Linked DNA regions of Homo sapiens. The protein of the gene in region 1 purifies or fractionates together with the protein of each later gene. This does not show direct contact. Each region holds a gene or a part of one and is shown on either strand. Other genes may lie near its edges.

What was found.
Region 2: the proteins of NEK9 (region 1) and EML4 purify together in Homo sapiens (affinity purification with western blotting; 2 studies listed by BioGRID and IntAct, with this or other methods). This does not show direct contact.

What each region holds. Positions count from the first base shown.
Region 1 is NC_000014.9:75,082,042-75,093,949, reverse strand, and holds part of NEK9 (serine/threonine-protein kinase Nek9), read left to right. Parts: intron 1-2,471; coding exon 2,472-2,680; intron 2,681-5,308; coding exon 5,309-5,470; intron 5,471-6,719; coding exon 6,720-6,932; intron 6,933-9,263; coding exon 9,264-9,386; 3' UTR 9,387-11,908.
Region 2 is NC_000002.12:42,159,683-42,176,814, forward strand, and holds the start of EML4 (echinoderm microtubule-associated protein-like 4), read left to right. Parts: upstream 1-9,670; 5' UTR 9,671-9,929; coding exon 9,930-9,954; intron 9,955-10,287; exon of another isoform or gene 10,288-10,549; intron 10,550-17,132. UniProt on the Homo sapiens protein: Essential for the formation and stability of microtubules (MTs). Required for the organization of the mitotic spindle and for the proper attachment of kinetochores to MTs. Promotes the recruitment of NUDC to the mitotic spindle for mitotic progression.

The DNA.
Region 1 (11,908 bases):
ATCAATTTTATCTACTTCCCTAGAACAGTGCCTGGCAAATGGTAAATGCTCAGTAACTATTTGTTGATTAAATGCGTTATAACCATCCATTGGAGTGAAAGTGAACATCTCCAAATATTTCCATAATGTGAAATGTAAAAAGCAAGTTGCAGCAGACTACATGCCTTTTTATAAAGTTTAGAAACAAGTAAAATAGGCTGGGTGTGGTGGCTCACGCCTGTAACACCAGCACTTTGGGAGGCCAAGGCAGGCAGATCACAAGGTCAGGAGATTGAGAGTATCGTGGCCAACATGGTGAAACCCTGTCTCTACTAAAATACAAAAAAAAATTAGCCAGGCATGGTGGTGCACACCTGTAGTCCCAGCTACTTGGGAGGCTGAGGCAGGGGAATCACTTGAACCTGGGAGGCAGGGGTTGCAGTGAGCCACGATTGCGCCACTGTACAGCCAGCCTGGCGAAAGAGTGAGACTCCATCTCAAAAAAAATAAATAAAAGTAAAATGAATAGTAATGTATTATTTAAGGATACATAAAGGCGATAAAGTTTTTAAGAAGAAATGATAAATATAAAATTAAACAGAATGGTTTCATCTGGGTAGGAGGCCAGAGAAGGAAGGAATTCACACGGCAAATACAGTGATATAGGTAATGCTCTAGTTCAGCAGTGTCCAGTAGATCTTTTTGCAACAATGGAAATGTTCCATATCGGTGCTGTTCAGTATAGTAGCTACCAGCTTTCTGTGGCTATTGAGCACTCCAGAGAGTGGCTTGTGTGACTGAGGAACTGAATTTTTAATTCTCTTTAAGTTTAAGCGGGCACATATGGCTAGTAACTCATATTGGATAGTGCAATTCTAGTTCTAGTGGCAAATAGACCTATGTTTATTGTTAGGCATGAAAATTTACACGTATGTTAAAATAGTCTTAGGTATATCTAAAATGCAGCATAATCTTAAAAAGCCATTTAAAACAAAAAGTAAGCTTCAGAACTCACTTTGGTAACTATAGTTCTGCTGCTTCCGTAGGATCTCAGCATGACCCAGTTAGTCCCCAGGCCAGCACAGCAGGTGATAATTAACCCTTCTTTACATTTAGCCTCAGAAAATACCAGGCATCAGAACAAGGATCCCTGAGGAGTAAGAGAAAAAAAAAAAGAAAATACCAGGCAATTTTTCTTTAACTTTGACAGATTAATCTTCTTAATTATATTTTTATTTGGCCCATATTAAAATTCAGTTTCATTTCCTGACCACACATCAGCTAGTCTTCATTAAGGTTGCTTGGAATATGCTGTATGATATGAAAGAATCAGCCATTATATTATAAAAATGGATACAGATAGTCGTCAGAGAATGTAATATTCACATTAAATTTTGAAGAATTGGCCGGGCGCAGTGGCTGACGCCTGTAATCCCAGCACTTTGGGAGGCCGAGGCGGGTGGATCACTTGAGGTCAGGAATTCAAGGCCAGCCTGGCCAACATGGTGAAACCCTGTCTTTACTGAAAATACAAAAATTAGCCAGGCATGGTGGCGGGCACCTGTAATCCCAGCTACTCAGGAGGCTGAGGCACGAGAATCACTTGAAGCCAGGAGGCGGAGGTTGCAGTGAGCCAAGATCGTGCCACTGCACTCTAGCCTGGATGACAGAATGAAACTGTGCCTCAAAAAAAAAAAATTGCTGGGTGCAGTGGCTCACGCCTGTAATCCCAGCACTTTGGGAGGCCAAGGTAGGTGGATCACCTGAGTTCGAGACCAGCCTGGCCAACATAGTGAAACCCCGCCTCTACTAAAAATACAAAACTTAGCTGGGCATGGTGGTGTGTGCCTGTAATCCCAGCTACTCGGGAGGCTGAGACAGGAGAATTGCTTGAACCTGGGAGGCAGAGGTTGCAGTGAGCCAAGATCGGGCCACTGCACTCCAGCCTGAGCAACAGAAGCTAGACTCGGTCTCAAATAAAAAAAAAAAAGTTGAAGAATTCAACATTCAGATTTTCCCCGGACAGGGAGTTAATGGTAAGTTTATCTGGCAACTTTAAGAGGAGTTTGGCTCAAATATTAAAGACCTTTTTATATAAGATAAGTGTCTATGGAGGATGCTGGAATCTGAATGTATCTCTTAAAGAAGCAGAGTAAGCATGGGTGCTAGATTTGGTGGGCTGTGGTTGGGGGGATTGTTTGGTAATGCTTTTAGAATATTGATAACCTGCTATGGATACAAGATAAACAAAGTTGGTAAATGGAAGTGAATTATCATTATGAGCATCCTGATATACAAATACAACTATACAAAATTACAAAACATAGTTTGTATGAAAACCAAAAATTTAGTCCCTAACATTTGACTTGCACTGTTGCCATTGCACTTCATGCAGCTTATAGGCACCTTTCCAGGGTAAGTAGGGTTGTCAAATGGTAAATCTGTCTTGCTGCATAGCAAAGCTGTCTATTTCTGTGCTGTATATCTGTCAGTGTTTCAGAGCTCTAGCCCGGGAGGAGGCGGCGGGGGCGGCGGTGGTGAAGAAGAGGACAGTCAGCAGGAATCTGAAACTCCTGACCCAAGTGGAGGCTTCCGAGGAACAATGGAAGCAGACCGAGGAATGGAAGGTTTAATCAGTCCCACAGAGGCCATGGGGAACAGTAATGGGGCCAGCAGCTCCTGTCCTGGCTGGCTTCGAAAGGTAATTCCTTTGGAAGAAGTAACTTGGATAAAATATGTGGCCCTTTGCAGGAACTAGAAAGAGCTGTCAGGGTCTCTCAGTTTTCCAAGTACCTAGTAAACTGTTGTGCATCCTGAATCCAGCCTTCTGATTTCTACCTGGAAAGAAATTGCCTAATCACTAATCCTTTTTTCTTTCCAAAAAGATAAAAAATGTTCTCATACCCTTGTTACTTAAGTGAATGTATTATAAGTTACTATAACCTACCTTGATGGCAGTTTTTGTAGTACATGTATATAAAGATTAAGCTTACAGATTTTATACTGTCATTTATAGAAATGGAATATTGGAGCAGTTGGAATGCCTTACAATAGGAAAATGGTTGATGAAAGTTGAGATACAGAAAGTAAAAATGTTGGATTGGGCACAGTGGCTCATGCCTATAATTCCAGCACTTTGGGAGGCTGAGGCAGGAGGATCACTTGAGCCTAGGAGCTCAAGACCAGCTTGGGCAACACAGCAAGACCTTGTCTGTACCAAAAATTTAAAAAATTAGCCGGGTGTAGTAGTGTGCACCTATAGTTCCAGCTACTCAGGAGGCTGAGGCAGGATGATCACTTGAACCTGGGAAGTCGAGGCTGAAGTGAGCCGAGCTGTGCCATGATTGTACCACTGCAATCCAGCCTGGGTGACAAAGCAAAACCCTGTTCAAAAAAAAAAAAAAGTAAGAATGTTGAAGTATATTTATTTTCATGGAAAGTTACTCACAACATATGGCTATGCAGAAGAGGATGATATATCTGTATGATCTCATTCTTTTAGGAAATATGTAACACACAAAAGAATGTCAACAAGACTATGTATTGACAGTTTTTAAAGTGGTTGTCTGTAAGTGATGGAATTGCTGGTGAATTTTATTAGTTTCCTTTGCCCATTTGTATTTTCTCATTTTCTACAGTAAATATTTATGGTTTGTGAAATTTTAAATTTTTTACCAAAAAAAAAAAAAAAAAGACCGAGCATGATGGCTCCCAGCTGTAATTCCAGCACTTTGGGAGGCCAAGGCAGGAGGATTGCTTGAGCCCAGGAGTTTGAGACCAGCCTAGACAACATAGGGAGACCCCATCTCTATAAAAATTTAAAAAAAAATAAGGCCAGGGCCAGGCATGGTGGCTCACATCTGTAATCCCAGCTCTTTGGGAGGCCAAGGCGGGAGGATCACCTGAGGTCAGGAGTTTGAGAACAGCCTGGCCAATCATGGTGAAACCCCATCTCTACTAAAAATACAAAAATTAGCCGGGCAAGGTGGCTCACGCCTGTAATCCCAGCACTTTGGGAGGCTGAGGCGGGCGGATCACAAGGTCAAGAGATCAAGACCATCCTGGCCAACATGGTGAAACCCCATCTCTATTAAAAATACAAAAATTAGCCGGGCGTTGTGGCGCACGCCTGTAGTCCCAGCTGCTCAGGAGGCTGAGGCAGGAGAATCGCTTGAACCCAGGAGGTGGAGGTTGCAGTGAGCCGAGATTGCGCCACTGCACTTTGGCCTGGTGACAGAGCGAGACTCCGTCTCAAAAAAAAAAAAAAATTAGCTGGGCATGGTGGCACGCACCTGTAATCCCAGCTACCTGGGAGGCTGAGCCAGGAGAATCACTTGAGCCCAGGAGGCGAAGGTTGCAGTGAGCCGAGATCGCACCACTGCAGTCCAGCCTGGGCGACAGAGTGAGACTCCATCTCAAAAAATAAATAGATAAATAAATAAGGCTGGGCGAGGTGGCTCACACCTGTAATCCCAGCACTTTGGGAGGCCAAGGCGGGCAGATCACTTGAGGTCAGGAGTTTGAAACCAGCCTGGCCAACATGGTGAAACTCTGTCTCTACTAAAAATACAAAAAATTAGCCAGTTGTGGTGGTACACGCTTGTAATCCCAGCTACTTGGGAGGCTGAAGTAGGAGGACCACTTGAACCTGGGAGGTGAAGGTTGCAGTGAGCCGAGATTGTGCCACTGCACTTCAGCCTGGTGACAGAGTGAGATTCTGTCTCAAAAAAATAATAATTAGCCGGGCATGGTGGCACATGCCTGTGGTCCTAGCTACTCAGGAGGCTGATGTGGAAGGATTATTTGAGTCCCAAAGGTCAGGACTACAGTGAGTCATGGTTGTGCCACTGCACTCCAGCCTGGGCAACAGAGCAAGACCCTGTTTCAAAAAAAAAAATCTGTAGGTTTAAAGCTCCCTGTCTAATAAGACTAAACTTGCTAGTGATTTGAGGAGCGTGAACAGAGGAAGCAGCATGCTGTTCTGTCTGCACCTTTAGCCTCAGCTTTCAGCAGTGTTGCAGCCAGCCTCACTGACACTTCCTTGGAGCGCCCCAGCTCACTGAATAGCCTGTGTAGAATAAGCGTGTTGGAGTGACACACCAGAAACTCCAGCCTGTGTTCTTTGAGTTTGCCTTTGCATCACTGTTTCTCTGATGAAGGGGTGGCAGTTTTTTCACAGGTAGGCTGTGATATGTTGTTAACCACAACTGTCTTGCCCACTAGAGGGTGCTGAAGTCATGAGAGAGGGAAAACTATAGCAAAAAGAAGGGAATTTGGGAGGAAGCAAATACTGCAAACAGACTAATGAGATTCTTTCTCATATACATAGGAGCTGGAAAATGCAGAATTTATCCCCATGCCTGACAGCCCATCTCCTCTCAGTGCAGCGTTTTCAGAATCTGAGAAAGATACCCTGCCCTATGAAGAGCTGCAAGGACTCAAAGTGGCCTCTGAAGCTCCTTTGGAACACAAACCCCAAGTAGAAGCCTCGGTAACTGAGCTTTTTGCCTTTGAATCACAACTAGGTAAACAGTCACTGCAAGCTCTGCCTGGTTCTTCTGGCCTCGCTCTAGCTTTTGGGTTTCAGCTGCCCTGCATCAACTCATTATACTGTCTATTCAGCAGTACTTAAAGCCTCAACCCAAGACTAAACTGAGTTGCCTCAGAAAGGTATTTACCCTTCCACATTTCTGACAGGCTAACACCTTTCTAAAGGGATTGTCTTTTCCCTCTGCCTCAGAAATACCAAAATTCAAATTCAGTTTTTCATGACACTGGCAGGGTAGGTTAGAGGCTCTAAATATAAGAAAGAAGTAATACTGGTAGTCTAGTGAGGAAGCAACACATGTACACCTAACCTTGGTAAAAATGACATTGTGGTAAATACCTCAGTAAAACTATAATCCAAGGTCATGAAACTTTTTCTATAAAAGGCTACATAATTATTTTAGACTTTTCCTATTAAAGGCCACATAGTAATTATTTTAGACCATTTTAGACAGAAATGTGTACAGCCTCTTTTGCAACTACTCAACTCTGACATTGTAGCACAAAAAGCAGCTTCAAGTAATACATAATGAATGGGCATCCTTGTGTTCCAATAAAATTGTATTTACAAAAACAGGCAGTGGGCCAGAATTGGCCTATGGGCTATTTGTTGAACCCTCCTATAAAAAAAGTACAGTAGAAAAGAGAAAAATCCAGACTAGGATCATCAGAAAGCTTCCCAGAAGAGGTAATAATACCTTTGAAACTTCAAGGTGAATGTTTTAATTTCTCTGTCAGTTCACCTTCTTAAATTGTGTTGGTGGTCCTGTTTACTGACCACCTCTCAGATCTTTTCTAAAGTGTGATTCACTGCATATCATGAATATTGACCCTTTGGGTCTGTGATCTGAAAGACTTGTTCCAAACCAAATCATGCTTTTCCCTACTTCAGCATTTTAAATGAGAAGATACCAAGGTGCTTTAAAATTTTTCACAAAGTCCTCCAAAATAGATGATTGGTCTCCCACCTTGGCCTAATGGGGACTGAGGCAGAGAGTTCACTTTCCATGTTATGTCAGTGCCCATCGCTGTTATAATCCTAGCATTTCTGTTTCTCGTACATATATTCATGTGTATATATGATTTATCTTGTTAATTTAAAAGTAAAATCCGATTGCACTTAGAGGAAGTTTGGATTGAGGAGCTATGACACCTGGGCAGAACCTCCTGCAATCTCCTTCTTGTCTCTCTAGTCACCTCGGCTGAATCCTGCAGTAACCTGTGCTGGGAAGGGAACACCACTGACTCCTCCTGCGTGTGCGTGCAGCTCTCTGCAGGTGGAGGTTGAGAGATTGCAGGGTCTGGTGTTAAAGTGTCTGGCTGAACAACAGAAGCTACAGCAAGAAAACCTCCAGATTTTTACCCAACTGCAGAAGTTGAACAAGAAATTAGAAGGAGGGCAGCAGGTGAGAGCATTAAAAGAATAATCCAATTTCTAAGCCTGTTTTGAAGAATCACAGAAACAAAACACAAAGTACTGAAATAGACTTGTTCCTTTGCAGGTCCTTACTTTTTTTTTGAGACGGAGTCTCGCTCTGTTGCCAGGCCAGAGTGCAGTGGTGCTATCTTGGCTTACTGCAACCTCCGCCTCCCGGATTCAAGCAATTCTCCTGCCTCAGCCTCCCGAGTAGCTGGGACTACAGGTGTGCACCACCATGCCCGGCTAATTTTGGTATTTTTAGTAGAGACAGGGTTTCACCGTGTTGGCCAGGATGGTCTCGATCACTTGACTTCATGATCCACCCGCCTCAGCCTCCCAAAGTGCTGGGATTACAGGTGTGAGCCACCACGCCTGGCCGATCCTTAGTTTTTAATGATACCATTTTTGTAATTATAATCCCAGAAGCCTTGGGCCTTGTTCAGGCACCTAGATTGAATCATTTTCATCACTTGCATTGCTTTTTCTTAGTGTATGTTTTTTCTTTTACAATACTTAATTACATACCTCTGAAAATAGACATTCTCCTGAACAACCACAATACTATAACCACACCTAAAAAAATTAATACTAGTATTGTCAATTCTCATCTAGTATCCAGCTGATACCTCAATTTTCCCAGTTTTCCCCCACAAAAATGTCCTTTATAACCATTTTTTATCAGACTAGAATCCAGTCAAGAATCCCACATTATATGTATGTCTCATTTCTTTTCATCTAAAACAGCTCCCTCCACCACCATCACCTTTTTTAAATTATTTTATTTTTATTTTTATTTTTATTTTTATTTTTATTTTTTGAGACAGTCTCACTCTGTTGCCCAGGCTGGAGTGCAGTGGCGTGATCTCGGCTTACTGCAACCTCCACCGCCCGGGTTCAAGTGATTCTTCTGCCTCAGCCTCCCGAGTAGCTGGGACTATAGACGCTTACCACCATGCCCAGCCAATTTTTGTATTTTTAGTAGAGATGGGATTTCACCATATTGGCCAGGCTGGTGTCAAACTCCTGACCTCGTGATCCACCTGCCTCGGCCTCCCAGAGTGCTAGGATTACAGGTGTGAGCCACTGCGCCAGGCCTTATTTATGTATTTATTTTGAGACAGGGTCTTGCATTGTCACCAAGGCTGGAGTGCAGTGGCACAAACATGGATCACTGCAGCCTTGACTTCCTAAGCTCAAGTGATTCTCTGACCTCAGCCCCCCAAGTAGCTGGAACTACAGGCATGTTCCACCATGCTCTGCTTCACCTTTTAAAAAAATACTTTTATGACATTGACTTGTTGAAGAAACCAGGGCAGTTGTTCAACAGAATGTCCCACATTCTAGATTTGTCTTGTTTTCTCAGGGTGTTGTCTAACTTGTTTTTCTGTCACCCTGTCTTTTCTGAAAACTGGAAGTTTAACCTAAGGCTTGATTAGATTCACATTAAACATTTTTAGTGAAAATACTTCAAAGGTGATGCTGCTTGCATTATTTTTCGAGAGCCATGCTATTGTTTTATATAGAGGGAAGTAGAAGCAGAGAAATAGGGTTAGGCCCTTGGCTTTGCCATTTGCCAGCTGTAGGTGTTTGGGCTACTTTGTTTTCTCTGAGCCCTGGTTTCTCACCTGAAAGAAAATAATAGACACCTTGTATGGTTCTTTGGAGGATTAAATGAACTAATGTTTATGAAATTACTTTAGAAAATAATATACAGGCTGAGCACGGTGGCTCACACCTGTAATCCCAGCACTTTGGGAGATTGCTTGAGCCCAGGAGTTCAAGACCAGCCTGGGCAACCTGGTGAAACCCCATCTCTACCAAAAATAAAAACTAACTGGGCATGATGGCACACGCCTATAGTCCCAGTTATTCAGGAGGCTGAGGTGGGAAGATCACCTGAATCTGGGGAGGTCAAGGCTGCAGTGATCCGTGATCACACCACTGCACTTCGGCGTAAGCAACAGAGCAAGACCCTGTCTCAAAAACACACACACACACAAGGTAAGATTGGCAGCTATAGCAGGGAGAAGATTGTTTTGCCCAGGACTTTTTCCATTTTAAAACTAAGAGTTCTGCATCCCAGGAAACCCCGCAGTCCTGGACAAACCTGGATAGTTGGTCACCCTACCTGCAGTAAATATAAAGGTATGGACTGTATCTAAAATAGTGCCATGAGCGTCTCACAAGATCGTGGCTACAAATCCTTAGCCACGCCTTAGCCAATGCCTTAGAAGTTGGCATTGAAAATATAGTACTGAACTACTTCTGTGACTAGGTGGCACTGTTGCTAATGTGGAACCGTGTTTTATCCGGACAGGTGGGGATGCATTCCAAAGGAACTCAGACAGCAAAGGAAGAGATGGAAATGGATCCAAAGCCTGACTTAGATTCAGATTCCTGGTGCCTCCTGGGAACAGACTCCTGTAGACCCAGCCTCTAGTCTCCTGAGCCTGTAGAGCCCCCAGGAGACTGGGACCCAAAGAACTTCACAGCACACTTACCGAATGCAGAGAGCAGCTTTCCTGGCTTTGTTCACTTGCAGAAAAGGAGCGCAAGGCAGAGGCTCTGAAGCACTTTCCTTGTACATTTGGAGAGTGGCATTGCCTTTTAGATAGGATCTAGGAGTGATTTTATTGTTTTGGAGAATGGAAGGGCCCCCATGGCCCTGGCTTTGTCATCAGTGACTGCCATAGCAACAGCAGCTCTGTACCTCATCTGTTGATCCCACCTTTGAAGAGGAGACACAGTGCTCACCTTAATTGCGCTGGTAGCAGCTTATATCCCATGTATCATTTTCACCATTGATTGGAAGCTGCCTTGGGAATTCAGTACCAGGCATTACCCCTCTGGGTGGGAGAGGGAGAAGTGTAAAGTTGGAGTGGGCTGGAATCAGGTGTGGCCCGCCCAGTGTCCTCTGCAGAGTGGTGAAGTAGTCTGGCCCTCTTGGGAGCCCTGAGTCCAGGAAAATATGTCTGATGGAGTCAATCTAGGGCTTGTTTCGAAAAAGTTCAGTTACTCTGTGCAGCTAAATGCTTTAGGAGGAAAGGTAGGCTTAGGTTGCTTTTCCTCTGAGGGTTGATTGAAATTTCTTCAGTGAGGAATAGAGAAAGGGCAGGACCCTCCTCATCACACAGCTGGTGTTTCAGGCTGTGACCAATGCAGGGTGGGATTTCCTAACTGTGGATGAGGGGATGAGGTGTCTCTGAGGGATGAGGTGTCTCAGAGAATTGAGTCCATGGGGCAGTCAGAATAGCCTTAAGAGAAAATCATGAAGGAGAAGAGGTCCTCCTTTAGCTGCCTCTACTTGGTATCTTAGAGAGGGCTTAGAGGGCTCTCAGTCTTCTGCCCATGAAAAGACTTCTTTGAGCCTCTGCCTTCATGGCTCTTAGGGTTCTGATCTTGATATCAGCAGCCCCAACCACTTTCTTTCTGAATGTCTAGTCAGTATTTTTCCCCTTTTGGTGTTTTATGAAGCCATGTGGTAACGAATGAATCTGTATCATTTTTCCTACCTGAGTGGCCCAAAGCCAGCACCAAACCCTGGGAGTCCCTGAAGCCTAACAGAACAGGTAGAACTTGCAAAAGGAATTTGGCTGAGAGCTCACTTCTAATCCTGTACTCACTGTGTCTTTGTAGATAGAAACAAGCTAGCTTTACCAAAGAGAAATAGTGTCATAGAAGAACAAAACTTCATATAGAAAGTTCTAGGCAAGTATTTGATGGTTTCCTTAAGGATGTGAGCTTTGTATTTCCACCTAGCCTTGTAAAATGTTCCTGTGGTATTTTGTGTCACACATCCTACCTTTGATGAGTCTCACATCCCACCTTCCTATAAACAGCTAAATTAATTTTGTTTCATCTTCCCCAGACCAAAATGTTTGATAATCTTATCAACATTGTGGGAGGTCTTGTGCAATGGAAATTTTGCCATTTCTCCAAAACTGGTGGCATAAAGGCTGATGCTTGGGGAGAACCCCATTGCTCGGGACAGGCAACTCTGTTCAATGGGATCTTCTTTGGTTTGATGTTCCCATTGTTTTCTCAGTTCTGGGAAGCCTAGTACATTAGTACTAATGTAATCACTGAAACCTTTTCTTGAAATAAGGGAAGCAGCCAAACTTTGATTAAAGTTGCAAGTTCTGGGGACTTGCGGGGGTTGTCATAAACTGTAACAGTGGGTTTTGGTTCAGCATGTAAATGCAACTTTGATTTTCTTGAGGACCGATTGACCTGTCATGTCCCTGTATCCTCATGCTCATCATCTCAGCAGGCCTGAGAGGCTGGGTCAGTTTGGGTGTTCATCATGAGGATTGCTTCTGCCATGGAGCTGATGGACATGGGCAGGTTGCTGAGAAGGTGGGGTGAAAGTGAGTGCCGGGGGTGGGTGAGTGCCCTGGTCTTGTTCATAGGGGAGCCTTTCCCTAGCAGTGGAACGCTGTGGTCATTTTCTCTAGCATATTCCCTTGGGAAGTCTAGATTTGCTATTAATCTGGCTGAGAATCTAAGTTCTGTGCCTTAGAGACAGTTTGCACTTTCCCATATTGTGCCTGGGACAGCCATATGATTTTTTTTCCCACCAAACAAGTATGCAAACAGAAACCAGTTCAAAGGGGGATGGAGTAAAAGATGAGGCAGTAGAAATGCCTTTGAATGGTTTTCTGTAGCTAATTCTCTTTAAATTTTGTCCTGCTTTTTTTCTTTATGCAGTGCTAGGTGTTTTAAGTTTTCTAGTAGTATTGCTTTTGAGTTACAGTATAACCTGAGTTACTCCTCTGCTCTAACATTGTTGCAGAAGAACTAGTTTATTGTTAGCCAGGTTGCTTGAAAGGTTGAGAGTGGAGTGGTTTGGCATTTCTGTTTTAAATAAACATTTAAGCTCTTAATCAGTACTGTGCTTCAGTAAGCCTGTGCATGGACCTTAGTCTCTGGGGATAAAACATCCAGATTCTAAGCCTCCGTGAA
Region 2 (17,132 bases), on another chromosome or scaffold:
CCCGGCCAAATTTAGACTTTTTTAGAGCAGTTTTAGGTTCACAGCAATATTGACAGGAAAGTACAGAGATATCTCATATGCCCTCTGCCCTACACATCCATAGACTCCCATTATCAACATCCTGCAACAGAGGGGTACATTTGTTACAATCAATGAACCTACGTTGACACATCATTATCACCCAAAGTCCATAGTTTACATAAGGGTTCACTCTTAGTGTTGTGCATTCTATGGGTTTGGATAAATATGTAATGACATGTATCCACCATTATATCATCATAAAGAGTATTTTCACTGACCTAAAAAGCCTCTGTGCCTATTCATTCCTCCCTCCCCACTTACCTCTGGCAACCACTGACATTTTTACTGTCTTCTTAGCTTTGCCTTTTCCAGAGTGTCATATAGTGGAATTATACAATACGTAGCCTTAGTAATATGCATTTAAGTTTCCTCTGAGTCTCTTCATGGCTTGATAGCACATTTCTTTTTAGCACTGCATATTTCATTGTTTGGATACACCACAGCTTATTTACTCATTTACCTACTGGAGGACATCTCGGTTGCTTCCAAGTTTTATCAATTATGAACAAAGCTGCTATAAATATGTGGAGATTTTTGTGTGGATGTACTGATTTTTAAATGTTCTTATATACACTTATTAGTGATTTGTATTTCTTCTTTTATGAAATGCCTGCTCACATCCTTTTTCAAGCCTACATTTTTTTTCTTTTTTTTGTTTTTGAGATGGAGTCTCGCTCTGTCGCCTAGGCTGGAGTGCAGTGGCACGATCTCAGCTCACTGCAAGCTCCACCTCCCCAGTTCAAGCCATTCTCCTGCCTCAGCCTCCCAAGTAGCTGGGACTACAGGCACGTGCCACCACATCTGGCTAATTTTTTGTATTTTTAGTAGAGACGGGGTTTCACTGTGTTAGCCAAGATGGTCTCGAACTCCTGACCTCGGGTGATCCACCCACCTTGGCCTCCCAAAGCGCTGGGATTACAGGCGTGAGCCACTGTGCCCGGCCTTGCCTACATTTATTGACCTGCGGTCTGGCCAACTTGATAAGCCTGGTTGCATGCAGGATACTGGATAACTGAGACCAGCAACTGCTGGCAATAACAGAAAGATGCTTCCCCCACAATTTTGGCCCTGGGAGGAACTTGGGCTCTTCCACGGGAATCTTTTCTCACTTTTGGGTAAGGACAGCCCATTTCACATGAAGGACTCTCTGGACCTGGGTCATGGCTCACCTCATGGGCTGATGCAAAAATGCCACCATGGCTGGGCATGGTGGCTCACACCGGTAATACCAGAACTCTGGGATGCTGAGGTGGAAAGATTGCTTGAGGCCAGGGTTTGAGACCAGCCCTGGCAACATATCGAGACCCCAACTCTACAACAACAACAAAGTCACATTTTGGAATTGAATTCAGGTTTCAGTTCTGAGGTAACCTTATACTCATTTTAGTTTTATAACAGATCCTCTAGAAACTTTAATCATCACAGTTTAAATGGAAGGGAAGCCTTATCTGAAAATGTCATTCAGCTAAGTGCAAGTCTCCCAGGTACTCAAGAAGGAAAAGTCCCTATTCTGACTGGGAGGACTTTGATGATGAGCATCATTGGCTTTATGCAACTAGACATGCTCTGTTATTACAGACCATTCACATCTTGATCAAACACTCAGTTTGGGCCAAGCAAAGTTTTAGCCTAAGAAGAGAGTGAGGAATGATACAAAAAGCTTTTTGACCATGTATCTGGAGACACACTCATGTATGTGCACACATGTGCCTTCTGTTTGCATGTATAGGCACATATAATTATTCTAAAAGAAACTAAAGGGAATAATATGCACAAAAGCAATTATGCATTTTTTATTTTTTTTCCTATTTCTTTTCTCCCCAAAATTGCAGACTGCCTAGATGCAAATTAATACAGTAACACCAAAAGAACCCTAAAGTCACAGCTGATTGCTCTGATGAACCTATGACAGGCACTAGAAGATTGCTTACTAAAGTCTGCAAGCAAAATAAAGAAACAATTTCTTACACCCATTGTAAAGGCTCTGTGTGCTTTAATTACATCCACCAAAGACCATAAACTCAGGTTGGGAAACTTCCATGTCTTTAATCTTAATTGTTGTAGTCCAAGTATTTCATTGCACTTGAAAACCCCTTATGACTTCTTACATTTCTAGTTAAAATTTATTTTTTAAATGCATGGTTTTTGTTTTTGTTTTTGTTTTTTTTACTCATAGACTTCTAAGTAAAAGTCCATAGACTTGGAAACAGAAGGGTTTAAAGTAAAACAAAAAAAATCTTAGGTTTTATTGTTATTATTACTTAAGTCAGAGGCAATTTTAACTTTTTGTCTTTATATAGCTTCTTTACAATGTTTTGATACTGCATTTGATCGTTTGGTTATTGGATATAAAGTTTGTGTTGTAAAGGACCGCAAACTAATGATTTTTTTAAAATGTGCAATTGAGATGTCATCTAATGATACACCTGTTTCTGGTTAATCAGAATGTTTTATCAAATCCTTAAAAGCTCACTGAGGTTCAACTGTGGTTTGGGATAAAATATACATAGATGAGGAATATCTGACTTATTTTTGTGTGGAACATGAAGTAGTATAAAAAATAGACTTTTCAAAGAAGAATAAGACATGATGAATAAGAAACTGTTATCCAGGAAATTGGTATTATATTAGCCTACAATACAGACAAACTGAATAATGGAGTAATGAGGATAGTATATGGGTGAGGAAAGAGCATCCAATAGATAACTCAAGAAAAGCCTAGGAAATCAGGTTCTTTGGCCTATGGAGATGGGAGAGAGAACTTGGTAACCCTTGTTTGCAAGCATACTGAGGTAATCTCAATTCTACAAATTTGCCTCTTTAGGCTGGGCACGGTGGCTCATGCCTGTAATCCAATCCCTTTGGAAGGCTGAGGCAGGAGGATTGCTTGAGCCCAGGAGTCCAAGACCAGCCAGGGCAACATGGCAAAACCCCATCTCTACCAAAAACAAAACAAAACAAAACCACACACACACACACACACACAAAAATTAGCCGTGTGTGGTGGTGTGCACCTGTAGTCCCAGCAACTCAGAAAGCTGAGGCATGAGGATCGCTTCAGCCCAGGAGGTTGAGGCTGCAGTGAGCCAAGATCATAATGCTGTACTCCATTCTGGGTGACAGAGTGAGACCCTGTCTCAAATAAAATAAAATAAAATAAAATAAAATAAAATAAAATAAAATAAAATATTCCTCTTCATCACACTTCAGCTCAATTTTCTGTTTCTGATCTTCTTTATTCATTCATTTAACAAATATTTATTGAACACCTACCATGTGCCAGGTGCTCTTCTAGGAGCTGGGAATTCAGCAGTGAACAAAACAGACAAAATCCTGCCAAATTCCTTTAAACTGTAGCCTGCATTTTTTTCTTTCCACTTTCAGACCCCCCTTTCAGTCTTTAATCCCCTGCAACTTGATTTTTTCCTCCACCATCAAGATAAACAACTCTCTAAAGACCAGTGATCTCGTAATCACTAAATCTAGTATCCGTTCCTCACTTCTCATCTTCCTTGGACTCTGTAGCATTTAACAGCTTCCAACTTCCATCATTAAAAAAAAAAAAAAAAAAAACAACCTTTTGGCTCCTTTTGGTTCTGTGATAGGGCACTAGCAGGATTTGCCTTCTATTGCTGTTATTGTTTCTTCTCTGACACCTTCTCTTGCCTCCTAAATATTGGAGGTCCCTCAAGTTCTACATTCTGCTCATTTCCATTTTTTCCCTTAAATCTTTTTCCTCTAAGATTTCTCATAGCTTAAACCATCGGCTCTATTGAGAAGTCTCCTGCGTGTATATTCCCAGACCCAACCCGCTCCTAAACCACAGTCCACATTTCAAACTGTGTGCTGGAGGCTTCCATCTGGACATCTGGTTATGACGCCAAGCACAATCTGTTTAAAACTGAACGCAGCACTTGTACCACTCAGAGTTCTCTATTGCAAACAACAGAAACCCACTCTGGCTGACTCAAGCAGAAAACAAATTCGCTGGGAGGATATCAGGTAGCTCCTTCAGTCGATGGGAAGATCAGAGGGCCAGGCACAGAAAATGGGCAGAAACCCAGGCAGTGTAGGGCACAGAGAGCATGGGCAAGTTTACTCTTTAGGACTCTAGTGAGGACGCTGCCCTGGAGTGGGCTGCCCTACTTCCTACCTCTGCACACCATCACTGTTGCTCTTCAATTTCTCAACTATCTTCAAGCATGGTCTCTGACTGCTAGTTTTTGTATCACTGCCCCCCAACTCATCCCTGCCATTAAAAGACCTGGGTTGAGGCATTCACTTGGCCTAGGTCATGTGCCTGGGCCCCAGCTGTCAAAGATGACCTCTGATTCCCTTCAGCTTCCCACAAAGGTTAATTCATCACTGTATTTTCTTTTCTCCAGTCACATCATTTCTTTAAGTTCCCATTTTAATATAATGCTGCCATTATTCTCTCCATCACTGGGAGCTGAACCTGGATAACCTGTTTTACTCCCTCCTCTTCCTTAGCTTCTGAGGCAATCAGTCCACCCAGCTCTGCGAGGGTTTTGTTTGTTGTTAATTCATGTTTTCCTTCACAAGATTTTTTTTTTCTTGGCGCTTTCTGCAGCTACTGCTTCACTGCAAGTCTCCTAATTGGATTCCCCACTTCCAGTGCCTCTTCCAATGTGTCCACCCGGTTTAATCTTCCTAAAGCAATGCTTTGATCATATCACTTTGCTGCTAAAACTGCATTGTTGATAGGCGTCTCAGTCTGGTGTTCAAGGATCTCCACAACAGAATCCCATTGAGCCCAAAAGGCAAACTGGTGCAGCGAAGAGTTTGATTTTCAGATGTAGATGGATATGGGTTCAAAACTTGATTTTCCCATTTTATAGTTTTATACTCTTGAGGCTCATTTTCCCTGTCTGAAAAATGGGGATAATGAAACCTACCACTTAAGGACCTTCATAAGTCAGAACTTTGAAAGTTGAAACGGTATTATATGTTGTATTTAGGTTGCAACATCAACCCACAGATGCTTATAATAGGCAATATTCAATTTCAGACCTGTCTGGTTCAAAACCTTAAGTAAGGCTGTCATCAGTGTGGTTTAACGCAGGCAGGTTAGGATCAGCATGCTACATGTTTTTGGGGCTAAGTGGCAATCTAACCACCAATTATGGCATTATTACTAATTTCAAACTGCTGACTTACAAATGACCTTTTGGAAATATTTTATTTGCAAGTAGAGAACTTCCTGTGTTATTAATTTTGAGAATTGAATTTCCTTGATTGGCTGCTTTCCACTCTAATATTTCTATTTAAAAGTATTTCCCTGCAGAATATCAATTTTGTAAGGGATTGTTATGAACTCTTCATGGAGAAAAATTTTACATTTATGATGGACACATGAAAATTATTAGCTATTATCTCTAAGGCTTGCGCAACATCCAGTAAATGTAGTAAAGCTATAACACATAAAAAGAAACTTTAAAGTTTGTTCCACAATCTCAACAAGTTCAAATCTCATTTCATGGCATAAATTCTGAATTAGCATTGGGAAAACTTAGCTCTGCAGGCAAGGCTAGTTGTCTTCTTTCTGTAGGTCATGGATGGCACCATGAGAAATGCCAAAATTAACCTCAATAGGCATTCGTTCACTCACTCATGCATCTATGCAGCAGGTCCTCCAAGTGAGGTATGGCTTGTGATCCCCACAGGATAGATTTCAGTCTCATAAGTTCTCACCAAGAATTTACAGCACTACTAATTGCTTGATTCTTTCCTGAAGTCAGCAAGTCTGGAAAGTCTTACGAGAGAGATAACCATCATGCCAAGATTGGTAAAACAGTTATTAAATAAGTATGATATTTTAAACCAGTCTCTACAGACACAGTTTATGAGTGTCTAAATATGCAGTGAAATATATTTTTTGTTTTTGCATTTTAATGTTTTCAAAAAATGAATACTTCTATGATTAAAATAAAATAAAAGTGAAATCCCCCATATCTCTCCTCTACCCTTTCCTTCTTCCACTTAATTTCATTTCTCAGAGGCAGCTACTTTTGACACTTTGGGGTATCTCCTCTCAAACTCCTTTTATTTCTCTTGCAATAATTTTGAAGTTCTCCCTAGGCATTCTTTATGGTTAGAAGCTAGAATAACATTGCCATTTAGCTTCTTATAGATTTTGGAATTCTTTTACACACTGCTTACATTAAACATATTATAAAAATGAAGAATCCCTTTTTTCCCCCACTCAGGTATTAACTCTGATTTTTTTCTATCAAATTTGTGCTTACATGGACTACAGGTTTATACAATCTATATAGTTCCATGACTATAGGGTTTCATTTTTTAAATAACATTCAAATAATGAAATAAAAGGAACTGAAGACACAGCATACTTAAAAAAAACCCTTAATTTTCCTTGGCATTTATTTTAAAATGTCTGCGGGAGAGAAAAGCAAGCAGACAAAAACAGTTTATAGTTACTTTTCAAGATCATCTAGCTAGTGAGAGTAAAACAAAGAAATTGAATAGGAATCTTATTTTTCTTCAAACGTTAGGTCAAGACTTTGACAATGTATCTTCACAAGTATTCTGAAACTCCTCCCACAACATACTAACCTTGACATAGAGGGGAAGGTAAGTATGCAGAGTCAAGATTCGATGTATAAAGAGAATGTTCTGGCCAGGCATGGTGGCTGAAGCCTGTAATCCCAGCACTTCAGGAGGCCAAGGCTAGGCGAATCACTTGAGGTGAGGAGTTCGAGACCAGCCTGGGCAACATGGCCAAACCCTGTCTCTACTAAAAATACAAAAATTAGCTGGGCATGGTGGTGCACAACTGTAATCCCAGCTACTTGGGAGGCTGAGGCATGCTAATTGCTTGAACCCGGGGAAGCGGAGGTTGCCGTGAGCTGAGATCGTGCCACTGCACTCCAGCCTGGGCAACAGAGTGAGACCCTGTTTCAAAAACCAAAACCATAAAGGGAATGTTCTAAGTTTTCATTATTTGATACAGCTATATTTAGCCTTTTCCAATAACTGGGATCCTGAAAAACGGCACATATTTTGCATTTGCCTGAATTAAGTTATACTTAAGGAGCTCAAAGGGGCAATGGAACTCCACATTGAAAATAATCTAAAGATAAATCCTTTGTTAAGGTGAATAACCAAAATAACCCTCCAGTAATTCGTAACTGTTTAGAACCTTAGTATTTGTGTGTGTGTTTGATAATGTTCAGCTATGGTTTCACTTTTGAAAGATGTATGTTAAATTTTATTTTATCATAGTAGTATTAGAGGCTTAGATTGCAAGATGTACTTTGATAAATATAAAACAAAAATTCTGGCTGCTTTAAAACACTCAGGCACTGGTTGTTGAAACAATGTATTCAGATTGACTAGTTTTCAGAATTCTTCTATGTTTGTTCATTATTCAATAAATATTTATCAAAAAGCTGTTCTGTAATATGCACTAAGTATATAATAGAGAGCAAAAACAGGTACAAAATAAGAGCAGCTAATACCTACTGAGCACTTATAACATATTGTGCCCTGTTTTAAGTGCTTTACATATATTACCTCATAGCATCCTCTCAAAAACTCTAAGAAGTAGAAGTGTTATCATCTCCATTTTGCAGTCAATAAAATGGAGGCACAGAGAGGTTAGGTAATTTGTCCAGTGTTTCATAGCTAGTACATGATGAGTTGGGATGTGAATCTGGGCAGCATGATTCCAGAGTCTGCACTCTTAACTGCTGGGATGTACTAACTCTCCTACATTTTAACAGCTTTCCTTGTAGTATACAGTATAATGAATGAGATGCTTATTGAATAAATCATTCAAGCAAATGAAAAATTTTAACTCTGATGAATGCCACGAAGGGGAGTGTGGCAGAAACCAGAGAGCTGTTACCAAAATATGTCTCTTTTCCTTCTGGATACACAGACTACATTCCTAGCCTCCCTTGCAGTCATGTGACCAAGTTCTGGCCAGTGGAATGTGGACAAAAGGGAGGTACACACTTCCAGGTCTGGACCATAAAACATATGTATACCAATATGCCAAGTTCTTATTCTTTTAATCGACCTAAGGCAGAGAGTGTGGCCTGAAGACACAAAGGAACAGCTGTCAGAATTGAGAACTTCTCAAACATTTACTTAGGCTTAATAGAAACTTATGCATATGAAAATGCCCATAGCAGAAGGAACATTGGGTAAATCATTTAAGTTTGAAGAGAAGGAAATTTTAGACACCGTTTAGTCTGTAACCTGAATTTATCTTGGCTGCGTTATGGCCAGTCTCCATATAGTATGGTATTCAGAAACAGGTCTTATATCCAAATAAGAAATGCAAAGTAATTTACATTTTTAGGGAAGATTTTTAAAGAGGCAACAAAGGGAGACGTATACCCCAAGAAGGTTTAACAATCCTTTCAATCATTTAATTCCTCTAAGTCTCTCTCATCATTACATATTTCTTGTCTCCCTTCTTGTTTGTCCCTCTCTCCTGCAACTCTGTGTAGTAGGACTCTGTTTTCCCCTAACTCAGCTTTTTATTATGTATTTATCAATTTATTATGTATAGATCAATTCAGTTCTTCAGTACCTTACAGCTCTTCTCTCTCTTACTCTAATCTGCACAACTGAGCCCCAGGAGGGACTTGACAAACCATGAGAAAGTCTTTAGAAGTATGGGAAATCGTGTTGGGGAAGGGAGGAAGAATATGAACGCTATGTATATTTACATGTTTTGGTTACATGTCCAGACAACCAATTTGCAAATGAATAAAGTGACGCCTAAATAAATTAGGTGATTTGACACTCTTGAGTCATACGGAGTTGGGCCTAGAACTCAGTGTTACTTCATTTGAAATAACCCTTATTATGGTTCCCTAGCAGGCCATCCTATAGCCTGCCATATATGGTCGTTTTGCACCCCTAGACGACAGAACGCTAGGGAGAGTAAGGAAGGCTGAGTTTTTGCTTCTACTAGGTTCGATGACCTTGGGCAGGTTGTCCTCTCTAAGGCTCTGTGTTTTTCTTCATAAGAAGGGTTAGACAAGATGAACTTTTGGGTCATGTCCAGCACTAAAATTCCTTGCTTCTGATCTGTCCCGGGCCCTGCGGCTGTGGCAGTGGTGGTATCGAGCTAGTCAAGAAGCTTCGCCCCTATTTGTCCCCCACCCTATTGGGGGAGAGGGAGAACCTCTCCCTCTTGGTTGCTTCTTTAGTGTCCTTGTAGGACCCACGTGGTGGTCATCTCCCGTCACGGGGGTCCAGTCTTGGCTCTGCGGGCTTCCCAGGGGCCACATAGGGAGAGGATCCTTCATGCATCAGAGTATCGCAGGCCAGAGTCTATGCCTTATCCCCACCTGTTTGGAACCAGCTTCCAAACCGTGGTCCCCAGCCTTCAGCAGGCCTACCGCGCAGGCGCAACCACCAGCCTGGCGCGAGGCGGACAAACGCCGAGGCCGAGGCAAGGTGAGAGGGCGGGGCTGGCAAGACCCCGCCTCCGTGGCGTCACGTGGGAGGCGGAGTCGGAAGTGTGACGGCGTGCGCGGGGCGGGGCTACTGCTGCGCGCGGGCGCGGGGGCGGGGCGGGGCGCGGCGCGGCGCGGCGCTCGCGGCTGCTGCCTGGGAGGGAGGCCGGGCAGGCGGCTGAGCGGCGCGGCTCTCAACGTGACGGGGAAGTGGTTCGGGCGGCCGCGGCTTACTACCCCAGGGCGAACGGACGGACGACGGAGGCGGGAGCCGGTAGCCGAGCCGGGCGACCTAGAGAACGAGCGGGTCAGGCTCAGCGTCGGCCACTCTGTCGGTCCGCTGAATGAAGTGCCCGCCCCTCTAAGCCCGGAGCCCGGCGCTTTCCCCGCAAGATGGACGGTTTCGCCGGCAGTCTCGGTGAGTACGGCTGGGGAGTCCTGCGTCTTCTGCGAAGGGTAGGAACTTTTTTCCTTCCGCACACAGCCCAGGCCCTGCCCTCCCGCCTGCCCCTCGGGGTGGCAGCGGCTCCACTGCACATGTTCCCTTCGAGGCTGCCGCCCCTCCGCGGACTCCGGTGGACTGAGGGCCCCTCCCCCATGTCCAACTCTCCTCTGTGTCAGACCCTCCTTTCCTCCCGGAGCCCCTTTCAGTGCGGGGCCCTCGTTCCCCCAAAGTGGGAACCCCTTCCTTCTCAGGCCCCCCGATAGCTGGCACACCCCTCCCCGTACACTCACGGCTCCCTCCACTTACCCCCCTTCAGAGTTGGGACATTTCTTCAAATCCAGGCTCCTCTTCAGGGTACAACCTTCCACCACCTTTCCACATACACGCCTCTCTTTCAGGGTGGGGATCGCCTTCACCCGAACAGAGGCTCCTTTTTAGGGGAGGGACCCTCATTCCCTCTTCAGGAAGGGGGCATCCCCCGCCCCCAAGTCTTCACTTTAGATTTGAAGGCGACTTTCCAGTATCCTTCAGAGTAGTAGGCAACTTCCTTTTCAATCCCTCCACTTCTCTGAGCATTTTGCAGTGGTGGAGAGACCTAGAAGCATCGGAGCATCATTTGCTTAATGCAGGAAAGGAAGAGGTGCATCTGTGTTGGGGGACCCTCTTTAAGAGTGAAAGCAGAAGTGTTTTCTGGTTCTGCATACATGCTGGGGAGAAGTGATTCTGCCCAATGAATCAATAGGAAAGGGGGCCTCTATCAGGGAAGGAAAGGATTCTCCATTTTTGGAAGATGTTGTCTTTGTGGAATGGAGAAAGGGAAGAGGTTATTAAATAGGCTGAAGTGCCTTTTCAGTGTTCCTTTCACCAGATGAAGGTAATCTTCTGGCTAGGAAAATCAAAACTCCAGGCTAGTATTCGCTGCCCTAGAAGCTGAATCTGGAATTACTATTCTTCGAGGCCATTGAAATCTAGTAAAAGATTAAGTTCAACTGTTAGAATGGTGAGAGAAACAGTTTCAGCTTTGGCTGATAACGCAGTTGTGTGATACCTACTGCTGGAACTGTATTTTGAGTTTTTTATGTGCAGGTAGCTTGTATTCAGACGCCTTTCTTTTACATTTCTTGATAATAAGTCTCTACTTGGTTAATGTTCACTGATCAGTGAGCAGTCTGGCCATAGGCCGTACTATATCCAGATAATATCGAGATGAGATGGATTTTTAAAATCTAAAGTAAAAAAGTAAGTCAAAGAGCAATGGGCCTATTATAGATATTAAATAGTAAAACCTATAATTTTGGCCTTCCCTTTTTCTTGGGCAGAAAAAATTGTCGTTATATTGCTTTCAGAGTGGAAATCCTAAAATAGGAGGCAACTGAGTGTTGTGTTACTCTTTCCTCCTCAAAGGCACCTGTTGTCCATTATCTAACCTTTGATGTCTTGTAATTCCTTACTTAGGTTGGGCTCTTTTTAGAGAGACATCCATTTTTCCCTGGTTCTTTTTTAGCTCCATGCGTTGGTTTATTCACAGTAAGTGTTGGACCGAAAAACTTGTCCTATATGTCCGCTGAAGGGCTGATCTTATACTAAAGTAAAAATTGAGTGTCTTCTTAGGGGATGTTGTGGAGAGCTGTGCTATCTTTATACTGTATTGGGTCCTCATCCTGTAGGAGTGGTGAGATCACTTTAACTTCTTTCGTGTTGGCTCTAAAGATTTCTGGAGGGCTTGTTAAAGCTTCATCTTCTGTAAGTGTTTAGGAGGAGTCTTTCTCACCAGTTGGGGCACTTAATGTTTATTTTCAAACATTGATTATGCTTTGTAATAGCTTTCTTCTTTCTTAACCAGTTTATGAGGCAAGTGATACAAAAGACCGAGAGATGAAGATGAATTGCAGTTGGGGCTCACACTTTTCATAAAGAGCGTCATTGTTGACCCTAATGTTGGATTTAAAAAATTCATTTGATGCCATGCTTTGGGTGGTATGTGATGAGACTTTCCTTTAGATATGGTGTTAATCAGGAGCAGAGGAGATATGCCTATCAGAGGAACCTGCATCTGCAGAGAGGGAAGGAAATGGTTCCTGGCAGTATTTCTGGAGCTGTTCTTGATGAAGATACTTCTCAGTGGGAGCTCTGTGCTTTCTCTTTCTGTCCCCCTTGCAAGAGTAAAACTAGGCCCCATCTTAATTGAAACCTTAAAGGGGTGGGGGAGGAGTAGTGCTGGTATATTTTACTGGTAGTCTTTAAGCGGAGCTTTGCTCAGCTCTTGCCAAATTGCTTGTTTCTGTTCTCTGCAGTTAATTAGCCTAGAGCTTAGAGTTACATTGATCTTTATTTTACCATCAGGAGAGCCATGAATATAAAGGCAAGCACTTCTACTCTAGTAGGTGTTTAAAAACTTTTTTTTTTTTTAAACAAGAAGTCAAAACGTGAAGTTCTTCTGGGGTTACAACTATTGAAAGCATTTATTCTCAAGGAAGTATGTGTGTATTTCCTTTTACATATTAGATAGATTCTTGAAAAATGGTGAAAAAACTACATTTTTATAAGCAGAAAAATTGAGTACTTTATAAACAGAATAATTTTAGAGAAGAGATTATTTCAGAGAATCCTATGGTGACTCATTTTGTGAAGTGAAAACTTAAAATTCAAACTGTACCCTTGATTGTTGCATGTTTAGATAAGAAATCCACTGTGTTATGTGCATTTTATAAGATGTCTAATGGCAATTAAGACTAGGTAGTGGTTTTTTAAATCATAGGAATGATAAGTGATTGGCCATTTTATAAATGCCACATTGAAGTTACATGGTACTGATTATGTTATCTTTGTTTTACATAAAAAACAAGTGAAGAATTCTTTTAATCTCCGCAGCTGATGAATTTCAGGCAACTTGGCTGGCAGGTGCTTGTACTCTGGAATTTCCCTTAGGTATTATTAATATATCTTTTAATCCACAAATTATGGTAACTTAAGGCAGCACTTTAGAAACCTTTTTTTTTTTAAACTTAGGAGAGAAAAGTACTCAATTACCTTGATGTGTTGCCTCTAAATCACTACATATAGATACCCATGTGCAAAATGTATATACTGTATGTATATTAAATCTCAGGTCTATGTGCAAAAGTGGGAAGCTATTCATACAGCTTTTACCGATTTTTTATAAGGCAGGGATTGGGTGCATTTCATGCTTAATCTTTTTAGAATCTCTTTCATAATAGAGGTTTAATTTTAAGACTTTTATCTTGGAATTAACCTAGAGATTAGTCTGTTTTCACTTGAAAGAAACCTTATACCTAACCAGTCAGCTTTAAATTTTTCTGCCTCAAAAGTTAAACAACAAAACTTAAAATCTTCTTCCCCCTAAGAAAAATCATAGTGAATGAAATTGTTGGATTAGGATCTATAAGAAACAACATTCTGGGTACAGGTTGTAAATGTGAACAAGTATAGCAGTATGCTTCAACTTATGGACTATTCAGAAATTAGTCTTTTTAACATCACATTGTTAGAACTGTGATTTCTCATCACAGATAATAGTCTTGCTTTCTTAAAGGAACAATGCTGTATATGATTTTCACATATTAATCTAAAGCATTCCTTATTTACATGAAAATGTTTTTCATGTAATATTTGGAGAGGTTTTTTTTTTAAACTTTTTTTATTGGTTGCCTCTTGAAGAGTTCAAGATAGACTCAAGTTGTGTAACCAGACATGAGTAGTAACTCTTAAATGGTTAGTAGAGCATCTTCAACATGAGTTAGCTAGAGTGTTTTTCAACATATGTATGGATTAACATCGAACATGGGCTAGCACTATGCTTGGTGGTTCTTATGGGAAAGACAAGTAAAAGACATGCTTTTTGCCCTTTAGGAGCTTACTGCCTGGTTTTTAAATAAGTACCATGACTAGGTGCAGTGGCTCACGCCTGTAGTCCCAGCACTTTGGGAGGCTGAGGTGGAAGGATCGATTGAGCCCAGTAGTTTGAGACCAGCCTGGGCAACATAGCAAGACCCTGTCTCTGCAAAAAAAACAAAAATAGGCATAGTGGCATGTGCCTGTAACCCCAGCTACTTGGGAGGCTGAGGCAGGAGGATCACTTGAGCACAGGAGTTGAAGGTTGCAGTGAGCTATGATTGTACCACTGCACTCCACTGGGCCACAGAGCAAACCTCTGCCTCTAAAAAATAAATAAATAAATAAAGTATGTACTGTATGTAGAGATGTTTATTATTAAGCCTAAGTACCAGAAATGGGGATGAAGGGAGGAAGCACCATTTAGAATGCTGTGCTATGTTTCAAGCAAGTAACTTCTGAGAGAACATTTGTTGATTGCTAGATTTATCTCTGCAGAGCTTGGCTTTTTAAAACAATGAAATAATTTAGCAGTTTAAATTCTAGGGAGTCTTTTTCTGTCTTATGTGTAAGTTGGAATAACATGTAGCAAAATACTGTATTTTGTATGTGGGAGTCCATTTCTGTAACATGTAAAACTTCAATATTCATAAGAAATTTTAGAAAAATATTTTGATTTTTAAAATAGATTCTAATACTTGTAAAAAGTTTAGGGAAAGAATCTACTTCATCTAGTATTACCTCAGTGTGGAAGATTCCCAAATCTATAGTATATTTCTTTGTGTGTGTGTGTCTGACGGAGTCTTGCTCTGTCTCCCAGGCTGGAGTACAATGGCACGATCTCAGCTCACTGCAACCTCTGCCTCCTGGGTTCAAGCGATTCTCCTGCCTCAGCCTCCTGAGTAGCTGGGATTACAGTTGTGTACCACCACACCTGGCTAATTTTTGTATTTTTAGTAGAGACAGGTTTTCACTATGTTGGCCAGGCTGGTCTCAAACCCCTGACCTCGGGTGATGGCCACGCACCTTGGCCTCCCAAAGTTCTGGGATTACAGGTGTGAGCCACTGTGCCTGACCCTGTAGTATATTTGTATGTCGGTATATGATCTCTTGTCCTTTAGCTGTCTTAGGCTTTTATAATACCTTAATTTTGCATGCTGTATATGATTTTTAAATATTATTTTAAAGCATTCCTTATTTACAGTTTACAAAGAGCTTTTATCTCATTTAATTTGCATACTAACCTTGGGAGATAAATTATTATACTTTTATAGGTGAAAAAGGTCTAGAAAGTGGTTTTTTTTTGTTTGTTTGTTTTTTGAGACAGAGTCTTGCTCTGTTGCCCAGGCTGGAGTGCAATGGCGCGATCTCGGCTCACTGCAGCCTCCGCCTCCCGGGTTTAGGCAGTTATCTGCCTCAGCCTCCCTAGTAGCTGGGATTACAGGTGCCCGCCAGCATGTCTGGCTAATTTTTGTATTTTTAGTAGAGACGGGGTTTCACCATCTTGGCCAGGCTGGTCTTGAACTCCTGACCTTGTGTGATCCACCCACCTTGGCCTCCCTTACAGGTGTGAGCCACCGTGCCTGGCCGTGTTTTTGTTTGTTTGTTTGTTTTTGAGACGGAGTCTTGCTCTATTGCCCAGGCTGGAGTGCAGTGGCACCATGTTGGCTCACTGCAGCCTCTGCCTCCCGTGTTCAAGCTATTCTCCTGCCTCAAGCCTCCCGAGTAGCTGGGACTACAGGCACTCACCACCACACCTGGCTAATTTTTTGTATTTTTAGTAGAGATGGGGTTTCACTGTGTTAGCCAGGATGGTTGTGATCGCCTGACCTTGTTATTCGCCTGCCTCGGCCTTCCAAAGTGCTGGCATTACAGACGTGAGCCACCGCACCTGGCCAAGAGTGTGTTATTTTTTTAAAAGGTTAAGTCCAGGTTTTTTCTTTTTTTGTATGGTTGGGAGTGTTTGTATCTATATTATTTTTATTTTATTTTATTTTGTTTTTTTGAGACAGAGTTTCTGTCGCCCAGGCTGGAGTACAGTGGCACAGTCTTGGCTCACTGCAACTTCTGCCTCCTGGATTCAAGCGATTCTTGTGCCTCAGCCTCCCGAGTAGCTGAGATGACAGGTGTGCACCACCGCACCCAGCTAATTTTTGTATTTTTAATAGAGAAGAGGTTTTGCCATATTGGCCAAGCTGGTCTTGAACTGCTGTCCTCAAGTGATCCATCCACCTCAGCCTCCCAAAGTGCTGGGATTAGAGGTGTGAGTCACCATGCCCAGCATCATATTATTTTTAAATAAAACACCATAGAAAGGAAAGAAGAATAGAAAAATAAATTATCTTTAGCCCATTTGTATGCAGCTGATGTTAACATGTTAATGTACTTGTTCTTAGTCTTTTCCTATGCTTAGTTTTTTAATAGTTAAAATCATACTGCAGACATAATTTTGCATTCTGTTTTTTTCGTTGGATCCTAACCTTTTTTTTTTTTTCCCACTTGAACTCAGATTTTTCTGATGGAGTCCAGTGGTCTTTTCTCTACTCCAATACTGACTCTTTATAACCCTCAGGTACATACCTGAATCTGAACTTCTCTCCTGAATCAGCTTCTTTTCCTTATTTCCCACTGACTGTATCACCCAGTTTGAAATTTCAGAATCATGTTTTGATTCTTTGCCATTTTTGCCTAGGGCATTAGAATCTCTTCTAAGACTTGTCAATTCTTGTCACCTTTTCTCATCCCTTTTCTTTTCCACCGCTATAGTTCAGGTACTTATTATTCGATGCGTGGATTATTGCATGGCGTCGAGAATCTCCACCTGTCCAGTTTATTTTGTACAGGGCCCTCAGATTTATCTTCCTAAAGCCATGCTTTGATTGTGCTATTCACCCTCTCAGATTGCTTCATTGCTTTAATGACTACATTCAAACATCTTAGCCTCTTAACATCTTCTCAAGTCCTCTGTCATCTCTTTCTACTGTCTTACCATGTTCTGACCAAAATGACCTATTTCTTATTCCTCACATTTTCATCTTTTCATCCTGATGACTATTCTCAGTACCCTTCAAGGCTCAACTCAAATATTATTTCCTTTCTAAAAATGTTTACTTCTTTTCATTCCCAGCCCAAAGTATTCTTCCGTGAACACTTGATAGGACCACTCTTGGGGTACTTATTGCAGAATGTTTATTCCAATAGTTATAAGGTGAAAGTAATTATTACAGATCTTACAATTGTTATGTCTTATTTCCCTGAGCCAAATTGGTTTTATTTTTATTTATTTATTTTTTTATGAG